Linked DNA regions of Homo sapiens: region 1 is linked to region 2. The links come from fine-mapping of genetic effects on gene expression. A gene starts in region 2. The other region holds a variant in brackets. All regions are shown on one strand. Distances are from middle to middle.

The links. PIP is the estimated chance that this variant, and not a neighbour inherited with it, causes the effect.
Region 1: its variant is fine-mapped to the expression of CIRSR in whole blood (TOPMed, PIP above 0.99).

Annotation. Positions count from the first base shown.
Region 1 is chr2:174,465,663-174,476,173 of GRCh38, forward strand. It overlaps GPR155 (G protein-coupled receptor 155), which reads right to left. Exons shown (of 16, transcript NM_152529.7): 3 at 7,303-7,702; 4 at 4,728-4,893; 5 at 3,250-3,405; 6 at 882-965; 7 at 123-240. Among named protein-coding and RNA genes, the nearest start is that of GPR155, 16 kb to the right of the region's middle. The variant A/T (reference allele first, on the strand shown) is at 4,925.
Region 2 is chr2:174,389,147-174,399,326 of GRCh38, forward strand. It overlaps CIRSR (corepressor of RBPJ and splicing regulator), which reads right to left and starts at 6,566. Exons shown (of 10, transcript NM_004882.4): 1 at 6,405-6,566. The coding sequence starts at 6,476. SCRN3 (secernin 3) reads left to right here and starts at 6,584. Exons shown (of 8, transcript NM_024583.5): 1 at 6,584-6,671; 2 at 9,129-9,296. The coding sequence starts at 9,138. RefSeq lists a silencer at 2,914-3,078 and enhancers at 6,465-6,514, 7,012-7,512.

The DNA of each region.
Region 1 (10,511 bases), 77 kb after region 2:
GCCTCAGTGCATGCCTTGATCCTGTACTACCAGACTTCAAATAGATCACTAGAAGCTCAGGGCTATTAGGAATGGGGTGGGGTGGGGAACAGATCTCAATTTCCATTCATAATCCAACTCACCTGTCCACAGGTAGGTGCTATAGAGGGAGCTGTACAATAGAACAAACACCAAAATTTGTCCAACAAAATTTTTTTCTTTAACAAAATTCCATATCATCATTCCAGCACAGACAATAGACTAAGGAAAAAATTATTAAAAGACTTTGTAAATAGCTAAGAAAACCATATAATTCAATACTGCAACAGAAAATTCCAATTAAGCCAGCCATATTCATCTTTCATTCACAGCAAATATAATTATTTGTTTAAAATTTTTTGTGAATAATTATCAAGTATTACACACTACTTATACTAAAACTTCAAACTTTATGTTAAAAATCCATTTTATAACAGAGCCTTTGACAATATACATATCCAATTGAAACAGATGACTTCATTCTAAATATTAATTTTATACCTGTATTTAGTAATGGCTTACATTAAAATTGCTAAAGTTCTTTCCATTATAATTTGAGACATGCAAAGATTAATTAGAAAAATGATTGTGAAAGAGTTCAATTATTAATGATTAAATTGTTTCTATTAAAAAATGCAAAGTTATCATCAAATGCCATTATTAGCCTCAACTTTAGATAGTTTAAGACATTTTGCAATATTAAATATGTTAGGCGTATAGTAGTTGTAATCAAACTGTAATTGACTGCATTTGGTAATACTTCTGACTTCATAACTAGAAAAACCTAGCAAAGTTATTTTCTCCTCTACAGTAGAATAATCCATTAGAAAAACATAGTTCTAAATATCAGTAGTTTTACTAACCTGAGCAATGAGTAAATTAGTTGTAAGCATATGAGGAAGCTGTTTATATTTCTTACTCAAAAGAAGAATAGCCAGAGACCAGATCTTGAAGACAAAAGGTTCAAAAGTTATTCATGTTTCTTAATCTTTATAATTACTTATTAAATAACACAATGATTAGCCTCTTTAAATAACCCTCTTTGTCCTGGTTCGGAAAGAATTTCCAATATTTTATTTAATCTGTCTAGTTCCAAAAAGGTAAATTATTATAACCAATGTAAAATAACAAGCATGGAGAGATCCCATAATAAATTAACTCTCCAAAAATTACAGGGTCTTTAAGAACTTATGTGGCCAGGCATCGTGGCTCATTCCTATAATCTTAGCACTTTGGGAGGCCAAGGCAGGTGGATCACCTGAAGTCAGGAGTTCGAGACCAGCCTGGCCAACATGACGAAACCCTGTCTCTACTAAAAATACAAAAATTAGCTGGGCACAGTGGCGGGCGCCTGTAATCCCAGCTATTCAGAAGGCTAAGGCAGAAGAATTGCTTGAACCTGGGAGGTGGAGGTTGCAGTGAGCCAAGATTGCACCACTGCACTCTAGCCTGGGTGACAGAGCAAGACTCCATCTCAAAAAACAAAACAAAACAAAACAAAACAAAACAAAGCAAAACAAAAAAAAACTAATGCCTTGGCCAGGTGCAGTGGCTCACGCCTGTAATCCCAGCACTTTGGGAGGCCCAGACAGGCGGATCACTTGAGGTTAAGAGTTCGAGACTAGCCTGGCCAACATGGCGAAACCCCACCTCTACTGGGTGTGGTGGTGTATGCCTGTAATCCCAGCTACTTGGGAGGCTAAGGGAGGAGAACTGCTTGAACCCAGGAGGGAGAAGTTGCAGTGAGCCAAGCCAAGATCATACCACTGCACTCCAGCCTGGGCAACAGAGGGAGACTCTGTCTCAACAAAAAAGAACTAATCCCTTGACCAGGGCCATGTTCTAACTATGCCTACCTTCCGTGTCTGGGGTGGGACACAGGGTCACAGACAACTATTCAGGGAAGGAGCTTTAGTGGGAGATAGTTATAATAATGCACTATTCTAAGTTTTTTTCCTTTTCTATTTCCAACATATTGTCTCATGGGGTATCTAAATGCCAGGCTGTTTTACTTCAAACAACACATACCACACACCTTTAAGATTAATCATCTTACATTCTTCATTTTTTATTCTTTGTGTGTGTGTGAGACAGAGTCTCACTGAAGTGCAGTGGTGCGATCTCGGCTCACTGAAACCTCTGCCTCCCAGACTCAAGTGACTCTTGTGCCTCCAGCCACCCAGGTAGCTGGGATTACAGATGCATACCACCATGCCTGACTAATTTTATATTTTTAGTAGAGATGGGGATTCTCCATGTTGGCCAGGCTGGTCTCGAACTCCTGGCCTCAAGTGATCTGCCTGCCTCTGCCTCCCAAAGTGTTGGGATTACAGGCATGAGCCACGGTGCCAGATCACATTCCTCATATTTTAAAGGATTGGGTTTCCATTCTACCTACGTATTGGCCAGGTAAGTATCCTGGCGACTTCCTTCTTTCCTCATTGCCAACTGAAATGTATATGGTCTCTTTCCCCAAACTGCCCTGTTATGAATGGGTGTAGTAGATTTTAAGAACATGTGACAGAGGTGGAATTTCTTTAAAATTAATCACACATTTATCTGTTACCAATATACATATTCACCCCCACCTCCATTAACTGTACACATTGTCTTTTTTTTCAGCCAGAATATCTGTAGTTTTACTAACATGAATTCAATAGGCCATTTGATCTGTAAGATACTCTAGCTGTCATATACTTAATTATTTAATTTTAGTTAGATATATTCAGTTTGAGAAGTAACCAAAAGTTTCATTAACATTAAATAGGCGGTTGGACTTGAACTCAAAGATACCTTCTGACCCCATGATTCTAGAACAGCTAGGAATTCTATAGTGATTCATCATTTGCAGAATGCTTTTCACATATATTATTTCATGTAACCCCTTAAAAAACCCATGGAAATATGTGAAATTATTGTCATTATTTTATGCTGGAAAACAGAAATTTAGAGAGGTTAAGGTAACTCCACAGAGGCATACAGCTAGTTTGTGAGAGGGCCAGGAATAAAATCCAGGTGTGACTAAATCTCATGTCTTGTCTGCTATAGAACTCTAACTCCCAAATAGAAAAACAAAACTCAGTTAATCAGAAGGCTGACATTATATTTTATGGGCAGGCTTTAGCTTTCTTTATTTCATAAGAAACTAGATTTTTAAATCCCTTCTGTTAACAGTCTATTCTCAAAACTCATTCTGTGGTTTCCATTCATTTTGGGATGCAACGTACTTACCAAGGAGATCAGGCTGACAATACTTATATCAAAACTAACATTCTGGATGGCATATGCCAATGGCTTAGGGTCCATAGTGGGAAAGGTCAGTAACCAGGCAGAAACGTACATGATGGGAGCAGACACAAATGTGCTTATCACCATCCCTGAGGTTATCTGCAAAAATGAAATCAAACAGAGGAGTTACAATCTCAATTAAACAGTATTTTAAACTTTAAATAACCACGGCACACTAAAGCATTCTAAAATAAAAATGAGACACAGTAAAGACATTATAAAATCCAGCATGTTATCCAATACCATACTTCCCCTTTCTGAGAATCCTTAATACAAAATACAATTGAGTTACCTTGGTTCCTCTTCTAATCTATGCTTAATTTATATTTACGCATAATAAATACTAGAAATTTACTGTTGATGGTTAGTTATCCTCTAAGTTCTAGAAAATAAACTGTAGCAATGATATAAATAAACCTGTTTCACAAACTATGTGGCAAAAAAGAAAAGGAATTCAAAAAAAGAAAATTACCATGCAAATATTTATTTTACAGATTAAATAACAGAATTGACCTCCATTAAACAACTTAGTTCCTTTGTATTATATTTAAAAATCATTTACTCTGATGCTGTAGATACCATTTACAATACATTTAGACACTGTTAATAATTTGGTGTCAATTGATTTTAGCTATCTGCTGCAGTTATTATGCAGTATTTTGCATCTGGTGCTTGAAATTATCAATGATAAAATAGGCATTTTTTTCTTCAAAATTTCAAAGTTACCTTTCTGTAAATAATTTTTAGGTTTCTGTCTAAGTACAGAAATAAAATAGTTAAAACTAAAAAAACTGATTAAAAAAAGTCAGGGCTGACTAAAGACCCCAGATTAAATGACTGTTGTTACATTATGTTACATGATGCCTATTTCTTATAATGAGATAGCTTATAGGCATCAAATTCTCATAAAAAACAATGCTGCTTGCTCTGTCACCCAGGCTGGAGTACAGTGGTGCAATCTTAACTCACTGCAACCTCTGCCTCCTGGGTTCAAACAAATCTTGTGCCTCAGCCACCCAAGTAGCTGGGATTACAGGCAACTACCACCACACCCAGCTAATGTTTGTATTTTTAGTAGAGACAGGGTTTCGCCATGTTGGCCAGGCTGGTCTCAAACTCCTGGCCTCAAGTGGTCTGCCCACCTCAGCCTCCCAAAGTGCTGGACCTCATAAAAAACAACATTGCTTTCTATGTTTAGAAATTAAAATGGGCTGGGCACGGTGGCTCATGCCTGTAATCCCAGCACTTTGGGAGGCCAAGGCAGAAGGCAGGAGTTTGAAACCAGCCTGGGGCAACATAGTGAGACCCCCGTCGTCTCTATTTTTTCATTTTTAAAAAAGAATTTTAAAAAATTTGAAATGAATTTAAAAATTTTTTTCGACTAAACACACCATCAAACTTAGAAAGTACTATATACATACAATTTCTACTTCCATGTTGAATTGTGTTGCAAAGATAGCCACTCCTGGTGCTACAGGAAATACACCATACAGAAATGCATAATTTGATAAACTTGTATGGTTCACCACACTGTCGCCCTTGTCCAAGAGTTCCACCATTTCTCTGCACAGAAGTGGCAGCACCAGACTGAAGAAAAAAGAAAAACATCATTTACCTG[A/T]TATCAAAGCATGGTTGTCCCCAGTAGCAGGCTGCTCTGGTGAATTTGGCATCAGGTTCTCCTGCCCAGAAGGTATGTCTATTTGCATGCACATATTCTGTGCATGTCTACCTGGGCACATTTTGTTGAAAAAAATCAAGAATTCAACTTGGAGCCATTTAAAGTGTAACAATATTCTGGAAATACCTCACACATCAGGGATTAGGAGGGAAAAAAAGATGTTTTTGGTTCTACAAATAATTTTTGTTTTTTGCCAAAAGATGGTAAAAGTTGCAATTCTAGCTACTTTCTTGCTTCCTCTATCAGTTTACTGAAATGTTCAAAGAAAGAAAGAAGGTTGACAATCTGCATAAAAACTTCTTTCAAGAGAATCACTAAACTCTTTTTCTTTCTTTCAAAGTATTCTAGAGAGACAGAAACTCCTGTTTTGAAAAAAAAAAAAAAAAGCTGAACTTTATCATGATTAGGGGTTGAAATGGTTCAGTTAATAACAACATTGCTTAATAAGATTCTAAAATCCTGCCGGCATGGTGGCTCAAGCCTGTAATCCCAGCACTTTGGGAGGCTGAGGCAGGCGGATCACGAGTTCAGGTCAGGAGTTGAAGACCAGCCTGGCTAACATGGTGAAACCCCATCTCTACTAAAGATACAAAAAATTAGCCGGGCATGATGGCACATGCCTGTAATCCCAGCTACTCAGGAGGCTGAGGCTGGAGAACTGCTTGAACCCAGGAGGTGGAGGTGCAGTGAGCTGAGATCATGCCAGCCATTGTACTCCAGCCTGGGTGACACAGCAAGACTCTGTCTCAAAAAAAAAAAAAAAAAAAAGATTCCAAAATCCTGTAGAAAAATAGGTATCTTCAAGTAGCTCTTCATCTTTGTAAAAAAAAAAAAAAAAAAAATTAGCAAAGGAACTAAAACAACTGAGATGGAGCAGAAAACTAGTGAAATGCAGACCTGTTGAAGAGTCAATTATTAAACAAATTTTTCAGGATTTCATAGAATGAGCAAATCCACAGTAGTTGAGCAAATAGGGCTCTCCTTTAAAATCAGCAAGACCAAGATTGTTAACATTTTCACAGCAGCACCTAGCAAGGCCCTCTGGGATGGAGTAAAGAACTACTCTGATCTGTACTTTTTAAATTAAAAAACTTAAATATCTAATTAAGTATCAAAGACCCCCCATCTTTAAAATTAGAATATTTAAATTCTACTTATAAGCAAAAGTTGATAATACCATTATTGTTTAAACTATACTTATTACTTCCACAATACTAATACTTTGTTTCTGAAGAGCATAACATCGCCATAAATAATTTTCAGTACTTATATTCATTTTTATTATTATGAAAACAGTAGATTATGTTGTACTGGTCTCATGAATATAACTGTCTATACATGAGGGGAATTCCATAGTTAAGTATGCCTCAAGTACTTTGGGATAATCTTGCAGTAAAATTATGTCACCTGCACCATCATGTAGAACTCCATGGCTAATGGACCAAGTAAGCTGAAGAACTATTAACTAAGAAGTTGAGGCTGGGCACGGTGGCTCATGCCTGTAATCCCAGCACTTTGGGAGGCCGAGATGGATGGATCACCTGAGGTCAGGAGTTTGAGACCAGTCTGACCAACATGGTGAAATCCCGTCTCTACTAAAAATATAAAAATCAGCCAGGTGTGGTGGCAGGCACCTGTAATCCCAGCTACTTGGGAGGCTGAGGCAGGAGAATAGCTTGAACCTACGAGGTGGAGGTTGCAGTGAGCCAAGATCGCATGACTGCACTCCAGTCTAGTTGACAGAGCAAGACTCTGTTTCAAACAAAAACAAAAACAACAACAACAAAAAAGAAGTTGATGAGCACTTTTCATTTGGCAAGCCAGGATCATATGGCTGATAATAATCATTCATATTGACTTGGCTGTATTTAGAAAATTTGGCCAACCTCAGAACTACAAAATACTTTTCCCAAATTCATGAAAAAAAGTTTGCATTAGAAATTATTGTTCTGGTTATCACTAAGATGCTTTTGTCTTTAGGGTCTTTATGGATTTGGAAAAGTCAGAAATGCTGCAAAATTTATTTGAAAATACTGTCAAACTGGGACATGAGGAGATACTGAGTAAACTTTATGTAAAAGCTGAAGGGAAACCCATCATCTTTATCCTCTGACAGTAAGATGGAAAGAATAAGCTACTGGGAATAAGGAAATGACTTTCCACAATACACCATCACATTTTCCTTTATCTCACAACTATTCTACAAGGAGGGGTTATTAATATTCAAAGGGGAAAATGGTTGCAGACATACCCCTGATGAATTGGCTAAATACGGCTTTCAAAAAGTACAATTCTCAAGTTAAATAAGTGATGCTTACAGTTTAGCTGTGATGAGAAGAATTAGTACTACAAATGCCGACTTCTTCAGTCTCTTTATTTTTCCCACCATCGTGAGACCAAGATAAAATAGGGCTGATCCAGAAAAAGAATTTCCAAGTCCATCAAGAAAATTTTCGACATATACAGGTACCTTTCGATCAAGAATAAAATTGAAGGCGATGCCAATGAAGACCATAAATACTATTGGGTTCTGTAATACACGCAGGAGTCCGAGTCCCACAATTTTTATTTTATTTTGAGAAGCATTTTGAGTGTCTTTCCACTTTTGGATTTCACAGAAAATAAACCCTATAGGGTTTAACATCATAAGAGATATTGGTGCCACCAAATAAATGTACTGGAGATATTCTGGGTATGTAGTTTGATATAAAGCTTCAACTGCAAAACAAGAATATTGATTTTTAAATGATGACCACAGAAATACAGATATATGTTATGTATATAACATTTTCTGTACTTTATAGCAATGATAAATCTAAAATTTTCAAAATGACCCAAATAGCCTATTTTGGAAAAGTACATTTTAGTAATAAAGCTGAAAAAAGAAAAACATAATAAATATCATATAGCTTATAAAATGATAACCAAGTTTACACATTATTTTTAAACCTCACTAATTTTTACCATCTAAGGGTTAAAATTAGTCTCCAAAAATGAGCAGAATTGTAGAATTTTTAGAAGAAACAATTCAAAGTAAAAATCTAGGGACAAACTAAACATTTAAGTAGTAATAGCAAAAATGTGTTTATTGGTATCCATGGAAAGAACAGTTTTACTGGAGTGGTAAGAGACAGAAGTCAGATCACAGAGGGTTGAGGAGAGAGTAGGAGTTATTTCAGGAACTAAAAAGGAGCACGGATGTGGAATCCAAGCTGTGTAAGAAAAGAAATGAAGATGGGAGATGTTTGGAGGCCTCTAGGAATTAGGGACAGTTGGAAGTGCGGGAGTTCAGAGTAAAACAGCTAATGAGCTACTCAGTTAAATATTTTCCAGATGACAAGGTCCAGGATGTGGCTATGGGACTTAGTGGCTGAAATGGAGTAAAGGAAAACATCACTGGAGAAGAGGAGGTCAAGGAAATGACAGGGCAGAGAATTTCATGGTAGTTCACAAGACAATGACAAAACTTGGGATAAAGGTAAATGAGAGGGAATGCCTAGAATGAGGTCAGCAGGTAACAGCAGAGAGGATCAGTGGTCTAGCCGGAAAGTATGAACCTCAAAGCAGTTTTTAACAGCAGAGCAGAGGGATGGTCTAGCAATGGTCCACAGTAGCTGTGGGGATGCCAGTCCTACCTTCCACTGCTCATGTGGTGTGCTGGCAATGGGAAAATGAACAACCTCCATTTGAGAGGAATGAAAAGGAATGAATGCCTTCAAAGAAGACCAGTGGAGATACTTAAGGAGTAGAGATAGAAAGGTGGATCTTACAATGTTTGGGAGGGAAATACAGTAGAGTCACATCAATGCACATTTAGTTAACACAAATTCAACCATACCCTCTTGGGAAAACAAAAGCTTCATTTCCCCCCACCCCCCATAGCATGTTTCCAAGTGCAAACAAATTATTTCAACTGCTGTTCATTGAAGAACAATGCTAGCTAAAAAAATCTGGCTGTGTTAGACTTATGAAAAATGGTACAATATAGACAAAGTATGTGTGCTGTATTTGGTGGGCATTTTCAAGAGTTTGAATATACAAGATGACTTTAGGACTTAACCACTGCATAAGATGTGTTTTTTTAATCTCATGAGGGAGGTGAGTGAGTGGGATCAGACTTCTAGCAGTTTCCTGGTAGACGTGAGGGTTGGTGACCTAGTCTTTAGTTTATTAGAGCAACTTAGGGCCTTTCAGTAAACAACTGGTCTCTAGCACATTTTTGACAATGGGTCCCGAAATTATACAATCTAATGCAAATAAAGGCTGATTTATAATTGATTTGAAGTTGAGAAAGATAAAAAAGAACAGCCACAGTCGTTCACAAGGAGAGAGGCAAACGTGAAAACATGTAAAAGATTAGGTTTCTCGGCCGGGCGCGGTGGCTCACGCCTGTAATCCCAGCACTTTGGGAGGCCGAGGCGGGCGGATCACGAGGTCAGGAGATCGAGACCATCCCGGCTAAAATGGTGAAACCCCGTCTCTACTAAAAATACAAAAAATTAGCCGGGCGTAGTGGCGGGCGCCTGTAGTCCCAGCTACTTGGGAGGCTGAGGCGGGAGAATGGCGTGAACCCGGGAGGCGGAGCTTGCAGTGAGCCGAGATCCCGCCACTGCACTCCAGCCTGGGCGACAGAGCGAGACTCCGTCTCAAAAAAAAAAAAAAAAAAAAAAAAAAAAAAAATTAGGTTTCTCAATTTACACTAAGATAAAATGATATAGGTAGGAAAATACACTTGTTTACTTACTCAGGATATGTAAGTTCAGTTAATGTCATGCACATGTCCCATTAAAGTTATATAACTAGATTATGTAACCTTTAGAAGGTCACCTTTTTCATAAAAGCTAAAACCTATTTTTTTTTAACAGATTCAATCCCCATTTTCTCAGCTAAGTAAATTCAAGATCTATAATATCTCCAAAATGAAGCAGTGGCTAAAAAATATTTGATTACATAAAACTTTATAAGTTCTTTCCACTGGTTTCCAAATTAGATATGCTAGTTATATAAAGTTAGTGGTTTTCTTTCAGGTTTCATAAGGCTTCATCTTTTAAACAAAAAGCAGCACTTTTGATAACTATTTTTAGATAATTATATTTCTGATTCTCTTGAGATATTTTATCTCAAGAGAAAGATGTTCATACCTGCCCACCAACTTTTATAATAGAGCAGATATTTTCGAAAAGTCTTATGTTTTCATCTGAGTATCAGAATTTTTCCTAACCAGCCACAACAATAAGATGCATAACATGTTTTCCTTTGACAACACAGCTATACAGTTCTGTGATCTACTCAAAGCCCCTTATATTAATGCCTTTTTCCAGAAATTTACTTTCCTGGCACACTAGCATTTAATCACTACCGCATAATGAACTTTACATTGTTTTAAGAACTCAGTGCAAATTTAAGCAACAGTTTTTATATTTGGCCATTCACCACATTCTTTCTTTCTTCTTTGGAAGGATGTTCTCCTCTTGATTGCTACTACAATTATTAGTCAAAAATCTCAAAATTAGATTACTTCATGTGT
Region 2 (10,180 bases):
AAGTGACTTTAGAACTGGGTAACAGGTGGAGGTTGGAACAGGAAAATGTGGGAAACTCTGGAACTTCCTAGAGAATTGGAGTGCTCAGAAAACAGGAAGATGTGGGAAAGTATGGAACTTCCTAGAGACTTGTTGAATGGCTTTAACCAAAATGCTGATAGTAATATGGACAATGAAGTCCAGGATGAGGTGGTCTCAGATGGAGATGGGAAACCTTTTGGGAAGTGGAGTAAAAGTCTCTCTTGCTAGGCAAAGAAACTGGTGGCATTTTGCCTCTGCCCCAGAGATCTGTGGAACTTTGAACTTGAGAGAGATGACTTAAGGTATCCGGTAGAAGAAATTTCTAAGCAGTAAAGCATTCAAGAGGAAGCACAGCATAAAATTCTGGAAATTCTGCAGCCTGACAATGGAATAGAGAAGAAAACCCTATTTTCTGGGGAGAAATTCAAGCCGGCTGCAGAAATTTGCATAAATAATGAGAAGTCGAATGTTAATCACCAAGACAAGGGAAAATGTCTCCAGGGTATGTCAGAGACCTTCACAGCAGCCCCTCCCATCATAGGCCTGGAGGCCTAGGAGAAGGAAAAAAGTGGTTTCCTGGGCCGGGTCCAGCCTCTCAACTGCTGGGTACAACCTTTGGTCTTCGTGCCCTGCATTCCAGCCACTCCAGCTATGGCCACTGCTTCAGAGAATGCAAGCCCCAAACCTTGGCAGCTTCCATGTGATGTTGGGCCTACACGTGCGCAGAAGGCAAGAACTGAGGTTTGGGAACCTCTGCCTAGATTTCAGAAGATGTATGGAAACACCTGGATGTTCAGGCAGATGTTTGCTGCAGGGGTGGAACCCTCTTGGAGAACCTCTACTAGGGCAGTGCGGAAGGGAAATGTGGGGTCGGAGCCCCCACACAGAGTCCCTACTGGGGTACTGCCTAGTGGAGCTGCGAGAAGAGGGCCTCTGTCCTCCAGACCCCAGTATAGTAGATCCACCAACTTGTACCATGTGCCTGGAAAAGCCACAGACACTCAACACCAGCCCATGAAAGCATCCAGGAGAGGGGTTATACCCTGCAAAGCCACAGGGGCAGAGCTGCCCAAGGCTTTGGGAGCCTACCTCTTGCATCAGCACACCCTGGATATGAGACATGAAGTCAAAGGAGATCCTTTTGGCACTTTAAGGTTTAATGACTGCCCTATTGGATTTTGGACTTGCATGGGGCCTGTAGCCCCTTTGTTTTGTCCAAATTGTCCCATTGGGGATGGGTGTATTTACCCAATGCCTGTACTCCTGTTGTATCCAGGAAGTCATTAACTTGCTTTTGATTTTACAGGCTCATAGGTGGAAGGGACTTGCCTTGTCTTACATGAGACTTTGGACTTAGACATTTGAGTTAATGCTGGAATGAGTTAAGACTTTGGTTGTTAAGGGCAGGATTGTGTTTTGAAATGTGAGGACATGAGATCTGGAAGGGGCTGGGGTGGAATGGTATGGTTTGGCTGTGTCCCCACCCAATCTCATCTTGAATTGTAGTTCCCATAATCCCCGCGTATCGTGGGAGGAACCCGATGGGAGGTAACTGAATAAAAGGGGCTGTTACCTCCATGGTGTTTTCGTGATAGTGAGTGAGTTCTCAGGAAATTTGATGGATAAAACCATCAGAAAAGGAGCTTTTCCTCTTTTGCTCGGCATTTCTCCTTGCTGTCACCATGTGAAGAAAGACGTGTTTGCTTCCCCTTCTGCCATGATTTTAAGTTTCCTGAGGCCTCCCCAGCCCTGCAGAACTGCAAGTCAATTAAAATTCTTTCCTTATAAATTACCCAGTCTCAGGTATTTCTTCATAGCAGCATGAGAACAGACTAATACTAATACAAGACTAATATGGATCAGTAAACAAACACTTTCTTCTTTTGGGTGGTAAAGTTGCATATTGTGGGACTATACCATAATTTATAATTTATTTATCTCATACTGTATAAATGGGCACTTAAGAAATTTCCAGTATTTTGCTATTAAAAATTTTGCTGCAAGAACTCAATACACAGGTAATTTCACACACATTTGACAGGGTTTTGAAAAGGATCAAGGCATGGCCAAGGAAAAAAACAGGGCAAGATATAACTGGCAGAGAGAATGACTCAGGCAAAGGCCCAGAGATATAAAATAGAACGTAAGTAGTTCAATATTACTAACATATAAAATCTTAGGTTGGGCTGAGGTGGGCAGATCACCTTAAGTCAGGAGTCTGAGACCAGCCTGGCCAACATGGTGAAACTCCATCTCTACTAAAAATACAAAAATTAGCCAGGCGTGGTGGTGTGTATCTGTAATCCCAGCTACTCGGAAAGCTGAGGCAGGAGAATCACCTAAGCCTGGGAGGTAGAGGCTTCAGTGAGCTGAGACTGCATCACTGCACTCTAGCCTGGGCAACAGAGTGAGCCTCCATCTCAAAAAATAAATAAATAAATAAATCTGAGGTGGGAGAATAGTAGGAGGGGAGAAGGAGAAAAACGATGGAGTGAGATTACTTGGACTCAATCCTGTAATATTTTAATAACAGGCTGAAAGAGATCAGATTTGTGCTTAAAAAAAGACAATTCTATCGAAATAACTTACATTCATACAATGGAATATTATTTAGCAATAAAAAGGAAAAAGTACCAATACATGCCATACCATGGATAAACTTCAAAAACATTATGGTGAGAGTAGCCAGTCAAAAAAGACCACAGATTGCATGATTCCATTTAAATGAATTTCCAGAATAGGCAAATCCACTAACAGAAAGTAGATTAGTGCTTGCCTAGGGCTGGAGAGAGGGAGAAGAGTTAAGGAAAAATGGGAGTGACTAACAGGTATGCAGGTTTCTTTTTTTTTGAGTCAGTGTCTCACTGTCACCCAGGCTGGAGTGCAGTGGCGCAATCTTGGCTCACTGCAATCTCCGCCTCCCGGGTTCATGCGATTCTCCCACCTCAGCCTCCCAAGTAGCTGGGATTACAAGCGCCCGCCACCACACCCAGCTAATTTTTGTACTTTTAGTAGAGACAGGGTTTCACCATGTTGGCCAGGCTGTCTTGAATTCCTGACCTCGGGTGATCCACCCACCTCAGCCACCCAAAGTGCAGAGATTACAGGTGTGAGCCACCATGCCCAGCGGGGGTTTCTTTTTGGGGTGATGACAAAGTTCTAAAATTGTTTGTGGTAATGATTACTTAACTCCATGAATACATTTTAAAAACCACTAAATTGTACATTTTACATGGGTGTTTGTATGATATGTAAATTTATCTCAGCAGAGCTGTTAAAATGAAAAATGACTATTCTGATGGCTGTGTAGTGAATGGATTTGAGAGGACTCAAGATTGGAGGCAGTAGAACCACTTAGGAAATGCAACAATATAGGTGAAAGATGATGAGGGTCTGAATTAAGACACAAGCAGCAGTGACAGAAAGGAAAGATGGATTCAAGAGATATTTGGAAGGTAAGACCAATAGCATTCAGTGATTGACTAGATAAAGGAGTGATGGGAAAAGGGATGAATCCTGAGCTTCTGGTTTGGGCAACAGGATGAGGGACTGTTTTACTATCTATATTTCTACCCATATGAGATAGCAAGTATAAAAAGGGCTGATTTGGGGTAAAAAACTTTTATATCAGATATGTTGAGTTTGAGGTGCCTATAGGACATCAAGATGCAAATGTCTAGTAGATAGCTGTCTTGAGCCACATCAAAGTTAAGAAGAGAAAACTGGGACTGCAGATTTGAGTCATGAGTAAACAGGCTAGTTAAAACAGGCTAGTTGGATGTGATTGCTTGGGGCAAGCATACTAAGTAAGCAAGAAGTGGGCCAAGGATGAAACTCTGGGGAACACTTATATTTTAGGAGCAGGCTAAGAATAAAGATCCAGTGAAGTTGATGGGAAAAGAACAGTCTAATAAGAGAGCTGGAAAACTAGAAGAGAGTAGTTATTACAGCTAAGGGAACAGAGAGTTTCACAAAAAAGGGAGTTTACAGTGATGCAATTGTCAATAGCCAGTTTATGAACTGTTTGCCAGTCCACAAGAAGACTAAAGAGCTTGGACCACAATGTAAATTAACTGCTTCCTTCATTAACAAAATCAAGAAAAAAAAAGAACAGCTGAACAAAACAGTGTATCCTGTGACATAAATGATTGAGGCAGCGCATAACAATACACAACAGAGTGACCAGCAGATATACAGCATTCACTCTTATTTTTGGTGAACAAATGAGACCTTAAAACCTACTGGACTTTTTATAAGCTTGGGAAACTGAAAACAAACAAGGAAAAAAAGAACCTACTGGACTTTAATAAACCCAACATGCCTAATTTTACAATTAGAATTTTCTTTCTTTCTTTTTAAATATAGATGGGGTCTCACTTTGTTGCCTATGCTGGTCTTGAATTCCTGGCCTCTCAAAGTGCTGGAATTATAGGTATGAGCCACCATACCTGGCCCTTAAAATTTTCATGGTGGAACTCTTTTGCACTCTTTGATCAAACTCCTTTGTTTCTTCCACTTCTATTAAAAAAAAAAAAAAACTTTACTGGAGTATGACATATAAAAAGCTGTACATATTTAATGTATACAACCTGAGTTTGGTGACAAGTATATCCCTGTGAAACCATCATCACAATCTACACTATAAACATATCCATCACCTCCAAAAGTTTCCTCCTACCCTAATAAATTTTTCTATTTATCTTCATTTAATATAGTTCCTTTATCCTTAGTTAATAAAGAATGCTAGAGGTCACCCCCTCTCCCCATAAAGTGTTAACTATCTAGAAAGGTCTGCTAATCAAAAACATTTCATTCTTCTCCTCTATCCTGGGAAAAGTATAAAACAGATCAAAGAGGCCAACAATATTTGGTACATTTTACATAACACTTTACACAGATGAGAAGAATGTAGGTTCTAAGCCTATAACTGCTTTACTGAATTTCTCATAGCGGACTTGCAAAAGTTATTCTCTGTGGATTTCTTTTTTCTTGTAAGAAAGCTGATACATTGAAATTTATAAAGCGAAATGTCAAAAGTTCCAGTAAAAAATTATGATTTCTCAGGTATATTTGTCTCTAAATATAAACAGCAAATAAGCAAGCACCTGAATTCCATCTAATCTCTTCATTCTTGTAAAAATAGTAACAGCTGACCCCCTAAGTATGCAGAGAAAGGAAATGTCTGTGTTTGGTGTCAAAAGTTATTGAGCCAACCAAATACAAGAAACCTCTCCCTCCCACAGTTGCAACCACACAAACACAAACTGGTGCAGTGGAAAAAAAATCACTGGGTTAATCAGGTGTTCCAGATCCTAGTTCTGGTACAACATTTAACTAGCTGTGTAACTCTTGGCAAATTTGTTTCCTCATTTATAAAATGAGGAGATGGGGCTGGATGATTACCAAAGAGCTTTCAAGGTGTATCTGTGTTATTAAAATTTCATGGGGGAGTTATTAAGAAAAAATGTTTAATAAGACTCCTTAGGAAGGTAACAGTGAAAAAAAAGTTGAGAATCACTGGTCTAGAAGTGAGAGTATATAGCAGTATCTCATCACCTCAACTCGTTCTAAAAACAAATAAAAGCTTAGTTATTTTCACAAGTTTCTATGTAGGGGCAATCAACATTTTATTGAGCACCTCCTCTCTGTAGTGGACACAGTGATAGATGCCTACGTTGTTTCAAATCCTTTATCTTCACTATTTCACTTAATCCTCACAATTAAGTCAATCATCCTTAATTTACAGATTAGAAGACTGAGGGTCAGATATTACAAATATTTTGTGCAAGGTCTTAAGGCTAAAAGTGACTGCTCGAATAACTAGAATCCAGGTTTGACTCCAAAGCTGATTCTTTCTACTTCACTCTTTTGCTTTTCATTACTATGATATTCACCAAAGTATTACAACTGGTAGACCTGTAATTATGTAAAACACTAAACTTCAACGAGTTTAGTCATCAAAAAGACACTAGATTATTAGGTAATTTTTTTAAAGATCTATCTTAAGTAAACGGGGAGGCTTCTTTGTACAGAAAAGTAGAGTTCAGAAGCCGTGATCCCTGGGATCCGAAAAGACAAAAAACCAGAATCAGCTGAAGGAAGTACTGAGGAATTTTGACATTAGTCTTCGCATATTATGGATTTGCATTCTGGCCGACAAAGATTCTCTAGGCCACCGGTCTCCTCGCTGTTGCAGAATAAACGCTGAGGACCCGCTGCGTCAGCGAGCTGCTCAGCAGAGAAAGGCGAGACCACCAGGGCTTTAGGCCTAGAGAAGCGGAGGCTGTCCTAGGGATCTCAGAGACACCATCACTTTCACTTCCAGCAGCCTCTGGGAAGGCGGTCCCTGTGGGCCTAATCCCTCCCCGGGTCTGTTTACTCACTTTTTTGATATTGGATTTGGAGGCAGGATGAAAGTCTTTCTTGCACATGAAGTTGGCGAAGGATTTCCCCATCTTGGAACTGGAACTAGGGAAAGCAGGGGCTAGATCTGTTAGCAACGTAAACAAACTCAGCCGCCTAACCGGAACTGCGTTTCCAGCAGCAAGGGGGAACTTCCGAGATCAAAGGTGACAGCTTCCGGCAACTGATGCCTCCACTGGCCACTCCTCCCTCCGTCCACCTGTCACTTCGGGTAGCTGGGAGGCCAGGTGAGGGGCGCGCACGGGGGAGGGGCGTGCATAGTTGAGACAGAAACCCGGAAGACCCAACTGTGGCGCGGCACTGCTTGACCGAGGGGCTCCGGAGCCCAGCTGCACCGGCTGCGGTTTGAGCGCCCAGGGCCGGGGTGCGGGGTGGACCGCGGCGGCCCTTCGACCAAAGGTGCTTGAAGCTCGAGCCCATTACTTTCTGTGGACTCTGACTCGAGCTGCAAAAGCTTTTCTGCACTGTTTTTCTCATCTATGTTATGAAGATAATAATTCCGGCCCTAACCGTAGTATGCTTGCGAGAATCCAACAATATGATGTTTCTGAAAGCGCCGGCTGAACTAAGAGCGCGTGAAATAGAATGACAGACAGCTCTGCAAGAACGGAGGCCCTGTCTATTTTGTACCCAGCTGTACGGTACTGGCGCCGAAAGACGTTCAATAAATACTTATTGAATGACGAATACGCGTTAGGAGTTGGTAAAATCTCTCAAGGCTTCACCTCCTCAGTGGGCTAGGTGCAATTCTAACCAGGGGGCAAGTTTCCTTAGCTTTCCCTACGACCCCAGTTAGGCAGCTCAGGTTACTATTGCAGCTTGATGGCCCTTGGGACTCCAGGTTTTTGAGTGGACGTGGCTGCTACTGCAGCAGGTGATCCACCAACCAAGTTCTCTATCAGGGTAATGTTAAGAATAAACCTTGGCCGGGCGCGGTAGCTCACGCCTGTAATCCCAGCACTTTGGGAGGCCAAGGTGGGTGGATCACCTGAGGTCAGGAGTTCAAGACCAGCCTGGCCAACATGGTGAAACCCCGTCTCTACTAAAAACACGAAAAATTAGCCGGGTGTGGTGGCACGCGCCTGTAATCCCAGCTACTCGGGAGGTTGAGGCAGGAGAATCACTTGAACGCGGGAGGCGGAGGTTGCAGTGAGCCAAGACTGCTCCATTGCACTCCAGCCCGGGCAACAAGAGTTAAACTCCATCAAAAAAAAAAAACAAAAAACGAATAAGCCTTTATGAGAAATTTTCTCTCCTACCAAATAATAACAATAACAGCTTTCATGTGAGTATCTACTATGTTCTATGCACTGTGCAAAACACTTTACGTGTTGCCTTATTAAGTTCTCATAACAGCCCATCAAATAGTGTCTTATTTTTCTGATGAGGCAGAAGGCATAGGTAAGAGAGAGATTAAATAGTCTGCCAAAGTTATATAGTGATAGAACTAACTATAAAACACAAATAGAAGGAGATCCAGGACATAAGAGTTGAAATACAGAAAGAAAATAACAGAAGCCATCAAGACATCAGACTTCTCGTCACTGAGGAGAAGAGGAAAACCCTTAAGAGTTTCAGTCTGAAGTTTTTATTTAGTCATTTTCTTTTCTTTTTAAGGAAACATTTATTATATTTAAATTTTGTTTTTAAGTTGCTAGCATCTGCCTGTGTAAAGCCATTTTAAGGTTTTGCCATTATTAAAGGAAAGAAGGAAACTCTGTAAAACAATGTGTCTGTTCTGGCAGCAAAATAAGGACCTTTAGGTGTTCTATTATAAGTGAAGATCTAAGATTTTCCAAGTTACAACTGAAGAGGTAATCTAGATATTAAAGTATATAATTGCGATTTATAAATTAAATATGTGAACTTTCTCCTAGAAATATCAGCAATTTGGAATTATATTGACATATTTTTGTCTGAATCAATGAGTCTGTTTCAAAATTTCAGTCTCATCAGAATTATAATGTGTATTATTTCCCAGCTCAAATAAGACCCCTTCTTCCTTCCTTTGAGGAAGTACTGGGCACGTAAGATTTTTTTCCATAAGACAAGTTCCAGCAAAGAGAATATAAAGATTAGTAAGACATACTCCCAGCCCTCAAGGATCTCATTGTCCAGTAAAGGGATTTATATATACACGAATGTAATGGAATCTAGCCTTTACAACAATAGAGCTAGGTACACGGATTCCCAAATATGGAAATGGTGAAACGAAATTCAGGGAAGACTTTAGGAGAGAAAGGTCTTAGAGAATAAATGTGAACTATACAGTAGAAGAAGGTAGTTCTCATTGCCATTTTCTTACTGAGTTGTAGTACCAGATTGAGTCCCAAGTCATATTCTTACTGATTTTTAGGCTGTAGTATACAAAATTTAAAACTTTAATGAACAGCCAAGCACGGTCACTCATGCCTGTAATCCCAGGGCTTTGGGAGGCAGAAGGGGGAGGATCTCCTGAGCCCAGGAGTTCCAGGCTGCAGTAAGCCCTGATCATACAACTGCACTCCAGCCTGGGTGAAAGAGCTAGACCTTGTCTCCAAAAAATAAAAATAAAAAAATCAAAGCTTTAATGAACATCCTTAATTAGATATGGCAATAATATCCTTTGGTCATTGAGTAAAACTCTTTATTTTTATATACTTAAAAGTGTTCTTTTTATTTTAAAACATCTGTATAATTTTTAGTTAAAAAAAATGGAACCTTTTTCCTGTGACACTTTCGTGGCATTACCTCCAGCAACAGTCGATAACAGGATTATTTTTGGAAAAAATTCAGATAGACTCTATGATGAAGTACAAGAGGTGGTTTATTTTCCTGCTGTAGTTCATGATAACCTGGGAGAACGTCTTAAGGTAGGTGAAATAAATGTTTTGTTAGCAATATGCCTTTTAAAAATATCATAAAGTTATTTCTATACATAGCAATTTGGAAGAAACTGTAGAAGTTAAAATTGAGGAGTTTACATTTGAAAAATAAATGAGTCAGAAATAAACTGTGATCTTTTATTTCAGTGATTCGGAGGACGTTGAAATAACAATAATAAAATTATCCATTGTTTGAATAAATATTTGAATGCTTTCCATATGCAAGCATGTTAGATAGGGCAAGAGATTTAAAGTCAGCTGTCAAGACTCTGTTCCAGGAGCTTAGAGTCTAGTATAGCAATAAGATGTGTATGCATTATACCCCATTATAAAATAGGATGGTTTAAATGCTAAATTTAAGTAACAGTAGCATGCTGTGGCAGCGGAAGAGAATGAACATTTAATTCAGCTTGGAGTTAGCTGGAATTTGATGGACAAAAAGGATTCTGATTCTGAATTGGCTTAGGTTCTACTTGATGTAGAATAGGAAAGTCATCCCAGACTTTAGGAATGACAGTTTTATGACACATCAAAAAAGGTTTATTAGGCCCTATGTTAACACTATCAATATACATTTTATGCAGTCACTTGGTAGTATACACATTAATTAAAGGATCCTTTAAAAACTTATTTTAAAAACCCATTTAATGTGGAACTTAAAATGAGAGCTTCAAATTATGCTATTGTTGCTAATTCATACTTTTTAGATTTTATTTTATTGATATTCTAATATTAAAACATATTAAATATTAGACTTTTTTCTGTATCCTATGCCATATTTTTTTCTTTTGCTAAGACCACTTATTCATCTGTGATACCACTTCCACTTTATTTCTTCATATTTAAATATAGCCTGTCCTGTAAACCAGTGG